2 linked regions of the Homo sapiens genome follow. The protein of the gene in region 2 purifies or fractionates together with the protein of the main gene of each other region. This does not show direct contact. Each region holds a gene or a part of one and is shown on either strand. Other genes may lie near its edges.

The links. The genes of interacting proteins can lie anywhere in the genome.
Region 1: the proteins of BTNL2 (region 2) and DSC2 purify together in Homo sapiens (affinity purification with mass spectrometry; one large-scale study listed by BioGRID and IntAct). This does not show direct contact.

The regions. Positions count from the first base shown.
Region 1 is NC_000018.10:31,085,422-31,089,166, reverse strand, and holds part of DSC2 (desmocollin-2 isoform Dsc2a preproprotein), read left to right. Parts: intron 1-1,353; coding exon 1,354-1,498; intron 1,499-2,424; coding exon 2,425-2,591; intron 2,592-3,745. UniProt on the Homo sapiens protein: A component of desmosome cell-cell junctions which are required for positive regulation of cellular adhesion.
Region 2 is NC_000006.12:32,403,372-32,409,416, reverse strand, and holds the start of BTNL2 (butyrophilin-like protein 2 precursor), read left to right. Parts: upstream 1-2,235; 5' UTR 2,236-2,293; coding exon 2,294-2,372; exon of another isoform or gene 2,373-3,300; intron 3,301-3,859; exon of another isoform or gene 3,860-3,963; intron 3,964-4,130; coding exon 4,131-4,478; intron 4,479-6,045. UniProt on the Homo sapiens protein: Negative regulator of T-cell proliferation.

The DNA of each region.
Region 1 (3,745 bases), on a different chromosome or scaffold from region 2:
TTGAGACAGCATCTCACTTTGCCACCCAGGCTGAAGTGCAGTGGCGTAATCTCGGCTCACTGCAATCTCTGGCTCCGGGGTTCAAGTGATCCTCCCACCTTAGCCTCCTGAGTAGCTGGGATCACAGGCACGCACCATGATACCCAGCTAATTTTTTGTATTTTTAGTAGAGATGGGGTTTCACCATGTTGGCCAGGCTGGTCTCAAGCTCTTGACCTCAGGTGATCTGCCCATGTCGGCCTCCCAAAGTGCTGGGATTACAGGACTGAGCCACCGTGCCCGGCCAAGAACAGTTACTTAGTTGGCACAAAAAGATCTGTGAACCTCTTTATAGTATGGAGATATCATAGGAGGTAAATGAAGTTCAGTCATTAAGTAAACCTCAGTACCCTGGCAATGGGAGAGCATTAGTTTATGGGGAGCAGGTAGGGGGTGTGACAGTGCTTACCTAAGCTTACTCAGTCCTTTAATCATCTGGTTAATTTCCTATGCTGGAAAGTGAGTTAATATGAAAGAATTTAACCTAATGCTGGTTTGATTTCCCAACAGGACTTGGTCATTTTGCTTAAGTCAGTTTTAATTATTTTATGTCTATTTTGGATGAATTAATTATTCATTAGAAGACCAAATTAATCAAATAAGACAGGCAAGCTTTGAATAAAGTATTTAGGTTTAGAATTGCCATGGCCTGGCCTTCTGAGTACCTAGGATGTTCTGGCCTTTCTATGATAGCTGTTATGAGAAAATTGGTATTGAAATTCATATTATAAAAACAAAAAAATTAAACTGTATTCCACCACAGTTTACCACCATTCATTTGTTTCATTTCTGATTCACCCTTTTTAAATTAAAAATTCTTTGAAAAGACTTACCCAAATGTAACCATTGATATGCCTAAAGTCCTCATTAGTAGAAAATAGGATAATATCCCAGTTAACTGTACCTGGGTAATCCTACAGGATCCCAAGTTCAGAAAGATCCAGAAAGTTGTATTTAAAATCCATGCACCTGAACCTTTCAAACAAAGCAAAATAAAGAAGTCTTCAAGGCTGTTTGGGAAAATAACAGTAAAAATTGTTACACTCATGAATAACAGTATAGCAATAATGAAGAAACTAAAATTATCTTTCATAAATTTAAAGAGATAAATTTAAACATACAATGCCATATTGAATCATGAAATTAGGCACCTCTTTGGCATTAAAATTATATCCATATCCCAGAACAATAACAAATGGTGAGACTCATACTGTAGTTCTGAACAGTCTCCAAGTTAAAGCCAAAATGAATTTGAAGCATACCTCATTTTAAAAGATTATTTTCACTTTTCTCCTTATTTTACTCTCTTCACAGATAATTGCCTTTGCAACAACTCCAGATGGGTATACTCCAGAACTTCCACTGCCCCTAATAATCAAAATAGAGGATGAAAATGATAACTACCCAATTTTTACAGAAGAAACTTATACTTTTACAATTTTTGAAAATTGCAGAGTGGGTGAGTACCTCCTTAAACAATATATGGCAAATTAACTGTGTTTCAATTCATACATTTAGTTTCACTATGTCCGTTGAGAAGCAGCGTATCCCAGCAGCAAGAATAAGGGACTCTGGGTGGAATTTTACTCTGTGTTTCACTAGCTGTGTGATGCTTGGCAAATTTCCTAATCTTGGCAAGCCTAATTTCTTCATCTGTAAAATGGGTTATCAGTATGCCAGATTGTTATGAAGATGAAGTGAAGCTCAATACACAGCGAATGCCAAGCACAGTGCCTGACAAATAGGAGTTAATAAATGTTATGCTGTCATCCTATGGATGGATGGATGTAAGAGAACATAGCCCAAAAAGAATAAGTCTTTCACTAATTGGAGATGTAGTCTTAAAGATATGTACGGATGTTCTCTAGGATTAAATGTGATTGCCAGTATTCTGGGCACGATTATGAAAGTCACTGAGAATAATACAAACATTTTCTCAGCCCTGTGAAAATGGTCTGTTTTAACTAAAAGTCAGAATGCAGTTTTGGAGACCTTGTCTAGAAATGTCTAAGTGAACCATGCAGTTTTAGAGAAAACTGACTCCTATGATCAATCTAAGCACAAGCTTACAAACAGAGAAAAGTTATAGAATAATCAGAATTGTTTAGTCTGAAAATACATGGAGGGATAGTATCAACATTTATAAAATCATACATTAAATACAATAAATATGAATATGATCACCCAATTCGAAAATGCTAGTATGCCAGAATATTTGAAAGGAAGTGATACTGTATGGAGAGGTCTGCAAATTTATAAAAGCCATGACTTTGCCATGTAATAATGTGGTCCAGAACTTTTTTGAGGTGGGTGAAAAGGAATGAAATAAAGGGAACATAGAACATGTGAATGTTTTGGAGATTAAAAAGGACTTTTCTTCTCTAGGCACTACTGTGGGACAAGTGTGTGCTACTGACAAAGATGAGCCTGACACGATGCACACACGCCTGAAGTACTCCATCATTGGGCAGGTGCCACCATCACCCACCCTATTTTCTATGCATCCAACTACAGGCGTGATCACCACAACATCATCTCAGCTAGACAGAGAGGTAACATAAACATTAATAAAACCTGATTATAACGTGGCTATTCAATAGTACCTGTATAACTCCTGTAGATGTGTTTTTGAAAAGTATGTTGTGAATCTCATTTTAGAAACATTATTATTTTATGTATGTTAATAGAGATCACTAAATAACCTTGGAGTATGCTGGTTTTGAACTGCTAATTCATTCTTTTCTGAATTGTTTGTTTCATACAATCAGATTTCCTGATATAAACATATTTACAGTATTAAAACAAAATGTCAAATATGAAAAGTGAACCTTTTAAATATATGCAGAAATTTGTTATCTTTTCAACAATCTCATCTACATTCTACCTCTTACATAGATGAAAAGACAGTTTATGTCTCTCTAATCTCTGGTTTCCCATTTTTAATCAACTGCTAGAAATCTTGATTTGGATGTCTGACAGGTACTTATGATGTAATAAATCTAAAATTTAACTTGTCTTCTTTTCTTCTAAACATATTTTCCATTCTATGTTTTCTAGTTAAAAAGATATTTATATATTCTTTCTCTATTAATCATTTTCTATTGTCACCTTGGAGTCATGGTCTCCAAATTGTATTTGATGTCTCTTGGCCCCCCTGAATCACATCACTTCCTAAAGCATGTTTTTACCTCCAAGATTGTTTTAAATCTATATTCTGTCTCTTTCTACTGCAATACCCTAGCTTAGTAATTCATTCACTTAGTTATTCAACTATTACCTCCTCCCTGAAGCATTATTCATCTAAATTCTTATAGCAGTTTCTGTGTCCTTATTTACTATATTTATAATCCTTAATCTTAAAATATAGTAATAGATGTTTATCAGGTATTTTATTTGATTCTTAAGTCTTAAATCTTCAGATTAATTTTCTCTTCCTTCCTCTATCCCTCATGGATTAGGGTAGAGGTTCTCAAAAGCTTTGGTCTCAAGACCAATGCTTGACATTATTACATATTGTTAAATATTGTTGAATACTGTTAACAGTGTTAAATATTGTTGAAAATCCCAAAGATCTTTTATTTATCTAGGTTATATTTATCTATGTTACTTGTTAATGTTTAAAACTAAGGAAAGTTTAAATTATATATTAATTTAAATATTAAAAATAATAAATTAATTACATGTTAACAGTTAAAATTCTTATAAA
Region 2 (6,045 bases):
TCCCCTCCCCCAGTCGTGACAACTGAAAATGTTCCCAGACATTGCCAAATGTCCTCTAAGGGCAAAACAGCCTCTTTGCCCATTAAGAACCCTGGTCCAAGGTGGTTATCCTCCCTGATATATTCTCTCACAGTCTATCTGAGCACTGGAGATGGATTCTCCCAACATTCTTCGAAAGCTTCATTGATTTGAGCAATTTTTTTGAGAGTTCACTTGTAGATTTTCCCTCCCACCGCTTTGACATGAAAGACCTACAGGAACGCAAGCCTCTGAAGTGGTCTGTAGCAAGTGTGAGTTCATTTTAGTTCACAAGGCTGAGAAATCATGCTTGGTATGGATGTTGTGGGGCTTTCTTTACTCTTACTTGGTGGAAAAAAATGTTCCTGCTTTTCACAAAAGGAGTCAGGGAGGCATCAGCAACACCCTTCAGTCTAAGGGGAGGTGACTGGTAAGTTTCAGGTGGCAAGGTGCTCATGGTCTGCACTGTCTTCTAACACCCAACCCCATTTTCACATAAATATCATACTGCCCTTTTCGATCTAGGTATTGTGAATGGGCTCATATAAGTTTCCTTAGAGATATCTTATATGAAAGTACATATTTTTTATAAAGCAAATGGGCAATATTTGTGTAACAACAATCTCCTGACTCATTTGATTGTTAAATCTCCATTTCAGAATGTTGATTTTTACCCCTGTCCCATAAAATCTTACTAGCAGTAGTTTCTTGGAAAGGGGGAAACTGTAATTGACTTGACATTGCTCCTGAGCTGGTTTCTCTACTTTGTGTGAAGCAAGTTTTCTTTCAATAAAATACTTGACACATCACATATAATAAGTCTTAGACTTCTTTCACTCTGAAGTTTGTATTTTTCAATGGTAAAACTAGCCTTCTATCCTTGTCCTGGTAAGTTTTAAAGTTTTTAGCTGTGTGAAGTATTTTTGTTCAGCTGGGACAGTGGGGTTGCTGGGTTTGCCAGTTTCTGCCAGTTGGGCTTTTTGTTTTTTTAATTCATTCGTGTTTTTAAGTCTATTCTAAAAGGCCACTTACAGATATTTTCCCGACTATCTTTCTACTACTCTTTCTTTCACTTTCCACGGCATCTCTGTGTCCCGGGTTCTCTGAGCGCTAGCACTGAATGTTGGCTTTCTGGCTGCAGTGTGGAGACGCAGAGCCTTCCTGCCCTTTCCTCCATGTGTAGAAAACAGTGGTAAAGAAAGGCTTTGCAGGAGGAGTTGGGAGGAGGACAGGAAAAAATATTTGAATCTTGCTCTATAAGTTTTGCAAGCTCACAACAGATGAACCTAAGGAGTTTTGTTTGCTTTGGTTTGGTTTGGGGTTTTTTTAATATTATTGTTCCTTTACCTCAAGTGTTTTTTCATTTCAGTCACAAGACTTCCTTACACCTAAAAAATTGCTTAAAATATTGTCTCATGAAATTAGGGTTGCTGAGGCAGGAATAATTTCATAAAGTTCTATTGGAAGGCAAATGTCAGGACTGATGTAGGAAGACACACCAACGAAGTTGAGGGTGGTCCAAAGTCTGTTACAAGTTGGAAGGCTTTTGTAAGGAAGTTCAGGCAGAAAGAAAGGGGCTCTTCATATTGGAGTTGTCTTTTTTCACTGGAGGGTACAATACAGAGGTTACAATCATTGGACACAGATGACAATATATAGACTAAAATATTTCATGCACAAAACAATCAGTAAAACTTTATGATTCAGAAACAAATCCATATCCTTTTCGATGTCAGGAGGTTACATATTAACCACTACATCAAATTAGCTCAGAAGCTACATTGAAGCCGAACTACATCAACGTTTGGGTGTATGAGCAGATCTGGTTATAGGTTACAGAGGTATCCTTCAATCAGACGTTATCTTATGTGTAGGAAAAGGCAAGGACTATTATTGCTTATCTTTTAAGGAGTAGAGTGACTCAGGCAAGAGAGATGGGAGGCCGTGTGCTCAATCTTGTTTTGTCTTTGAAGCATCTTTCTGGAGAACTGCAGGTCATCACAGCAGGGGCTTTGTGAAAGTATGCTAGCAAGCCGAAATGAGCAAGCAAGGCTTCTTACATTTGCTACATTGTCTCACAATATAACACGTTAGGTAAAGGGTTGGATGTGATCAGTAATTGCAGAGAAATGGAGCCAAGCCCATTTCACTGACTGTGCAGGGGTTGATGTGGATTCTCTGCTAAGACTGCATAACCAATGGAAGCCATGGAGTGTGCCGGGTGTGTCACAGCCTCACTTAGGCACAGCGTTTCCTTGTCTTTGTTCCAGGGAGGATGGTGGATTTTCCAGGCTACAATCTGTCTGGTGCAGTCGCCTCCTTCCTATTCATCCTGCTGACAATGAAGCAGTCAGGTAGGATTCCCTTCTCCCTTTACTGTATAGTCTAATGTCCCAGTGAGCTAGTCTGGGTCCAAAGGTCGAGAACAACATCTAAGAGTGTAAGTCTGGGGCCAAGCCACCTGTATCCAAAAAGGAACTCCTCACTTTTGAGGAGCTCCTCCACTCCCAGGAGCTCCTCCACTCCTAGCTGAGTCACCTTTGGAAAGTTACTTGAGCACCTCATACCTTAGTTCTTTCATCTTTTTAATGAGAATAACAGCAGTAACTACATCTCAGAGGCCAGCACAGGCTTTAGGATTAAATGAGACATTAAAAGCACTTGAATCAGTGGTTGCACCACGTTAAATTATTAATTCACTCTAGTACTTTGGGGTCAAGAAATGCAGCTGCTTCTTATCATAAATTAAGCTGCAATTAAAAAAAATACTTGGAAATAAGAAATTAGAAGAAAGGGACTTTGGAAATCTCACTAGCTGAATTTTGACGTCAAAATGTTGCACCTTGAAAAATAATTATTTAAAAATTCAGTGTCAAAAAAAAAAAATCAGTGTCAGAAGGAGATGTCAGAGCCCTAAGGAAAATGCAGCATGGCGAAGTGGGAAAAAACACGACACAGAGCATCAGAGGGCGCAGGCTCTGCCTCGGCACCGCAGAGCTGGTGTGTCTGCCTCGGTGCCGCAGAGCTGGTGTGTCTGCCTTGGCGCTGCAGAGCTGGTGTGATGTGATGAAGCTGCTGGCTTCTCTGTGCTTGTGCTGCAGCTCCCTACCCTGTAACAGTCAATCTGATGGAATGTCTTCAGTTCTAGCTTCATATTTAGACTTCATCAATGAAGAATACAAGCAGATCTCCACTTAGGCTCTTTAGCCACCTTTTGAGCAGCATCTATTTGATACCCAGCAGCAGCTAAGTAGGGTGAGGTTCTTCCTAGCAGGATTGGATCTGCACAGAGAAAGAGCAAATGGCCCCGGAGCATTTAGAATGAGAAAGAACATATCATACATGACATAAAATGATCAAACATAATAACATACATAACTGTTAAACATCTCTTCAATTTGCAGATAACAAGGAAGAGATCAGACATGTCTTAGAATTTGTTTGGAAGACCCAAAAATCTCTAGACAAACCAGTGTCCTTAATCCAGCACAAAATGTCCTTGTGAAAACTGCATTGTACATAGTCCCAGTAATTGGCCTCCTGCCAACTCCAGACGGGAAAAAAACAAACAAAAAAAAAACAAAAAAAAAACAGTTTTTATATCTAAGAGAAGAGGAATCCTGAAAGGCTAAAAAAAGCTAATAAATGGATTTATTATCTAAACTTCAGGAAAATAAAATGTTAATAACAAGAATAAGGTTTCCAATTTAAAAAGTCAATTTACATGAGAATAAATGACTCAAGGAATAAATAATTTACTTGAGAATAAAAACAACCCAGGTATGCTGGTATTAATATCTTGAAGATGAAGAAATTAGGACTTCAAATCTCAAAATCTTACCAAGAGTAATAGATTTGCCACCGAATCACATAGCTGGTAGGTGACAGACAGCAACCTCACCCACATTTTTGAACTGCATTTGTTTTCAGTACACAAAATTGACTCTGTAACAAACAGATGTGCAAATCATCATGCTGGATTTCTCTAAAACATTAAACATATATCTCTCCCTCTTCTAGTTGCCTCCATTTTGACAGGCTGGACACCCCAAAGCATGCATATGATTTTCTGATTGGCATTTCCTCGTTCCTCTTTTTCACTTATTTTATAGAAGACTTTAGAGTCATTGGCCCTGCTCATCCTATCCTGGCCGGGGTTGGGGAAGATGCCCTGTTAACCTGCCAGCTACTCCCCAAGAGGACCACAATGCACGTGGAGGTGAGGTGGTACCGCTCAGAGCCCAGCACACCTGTGTTTGTGCACAGGGATGGAGTGGAGGTGACTGAGATGCAGATGGAGGAGTACAGAGGCTGGGTAGAGTGGATAGAGAATGGCATTGCAAAGGGAAATGTGGCACTGAAGATACACAACATCCAGCCCTCCGACAATGGACAATACTGGTGCCATTTCCAGGATGGGAACTACTGTGGAGAAACAAGCTTGCTGCTCAAAGTAGCAGGTGAATATCTGGGGAAAGACACAGGGTCTCAAGAGGCAGAGATATATTAATTTGTGGTAAGCTTTGTGACAGTTGAGGAAATCCTTTTGAATCATCAAGGTAATTCCTAATGCTTAGTCCTCTACCCTGATTGATTTAAAAATAAGTGGTTCTGGAGTCTTCAAGCTTAGTGTTAAAATATTTTCCCAAATTTAATTTGCACAGTTTTGACTGTTCTTGAGGATTATTTGGAATCCATGACATGCAGTCTTTAGCAATTTTGCTGAGACACACATTTGTGCTACCTAAGGCTGGTGCGCAAGAGCAAACCAATTGCTGCATGAATGAGCCCAGCTGACGTCCGGCATCTGTATCTCAGGGCATTGGTTTTTCTCTACCCAATCCCATCTATGCAGAAACTGAGACGTGAAAATGTTCTTTCCTTGTGAAATGCCCTCAGTTAGAAAGCTATCAACAAGACTGAAAAGGCTAAGAATGTCGTGCTTTGGAGATTGTTATATACTAGTGTTCAATGAATTGGGGACTCACAGATGCTTTTGGACACACCCTCTGTGAATGGGAAGGTTCTTCATATTGCTGTTGTATTAGCTAAGCAGGAAGGAGTAGGGAAGAAGGGGACAACTGAAGAATGGATCTGTCTTATGAAAAGTAAACTATCATATGATTCCCTGACAGGGCTAACTTCTCCATGCTCTAAAGAGAAAATCAAGTAAATCCAATTACTAAGGCAAATGGGGAAAATAGTTCTCTGGAGATGTTAACGTCTCCAGCTGATACTGCTTCCTTCTTTACTTCCCTGGGAGGCTGTTTCCTAATACCTTTTTTTTTCTTAACATCCATTACTGTTACTGTGTTCAAGGTGATTCAAAATGGATGGAGGAATACATATATTTCTGACATGGGGGGACAGGGAACGTACTGATGTATTTCAATATCAGGAACATTTACAAATAAGTCACACATTTTCTAAGGGTCCAAGGGAAGGGAGTGGATCTCTCTTTTACCAGCAAGTGATTAAGACAGAATTCCCATTTATGGAAAATATAGTCCCCTTAGTTTGGGTGTGGGAGTTTCACGTTAAATAGAGAAAAAAAATTCATGATTTCATAAACTGTTGTAAACTAGGATTTCTCAAAACCATCTTACCCATTGAATAGAATATTTAGCTACAAATAACGCCTCGTGGAGATTCGCATTTCACATGCTCCCGTTTATCCACTTGCTTCCGAAGATCACAGCCACCAGCAAAAGATGCAGGAAGAACAGGCCCCTGGGGAGTGATTTCTGACTTTGTGTTAAATCTTCAATCAAATTGGAGTTCAAGACATCATCTAAAATACCAGACAATGTGCCCAATACAGATAATTTTAAGATGAAAAAGGCAGAGTTCATGGCACAGAGGAATTAATGAATAAATTACAGCTCATCTCTGTTTGCAGTGCTAGAGGCGTTGCAAAATGTCATGATGTCCCCCTTCTCCGATTCCCCTTTCTGGATCTGGAGAAAAGTACTGGTCAGATGCTAAAATGTAAAGACCCAGACTGGGGAACAAATAAAGTGTATCTGA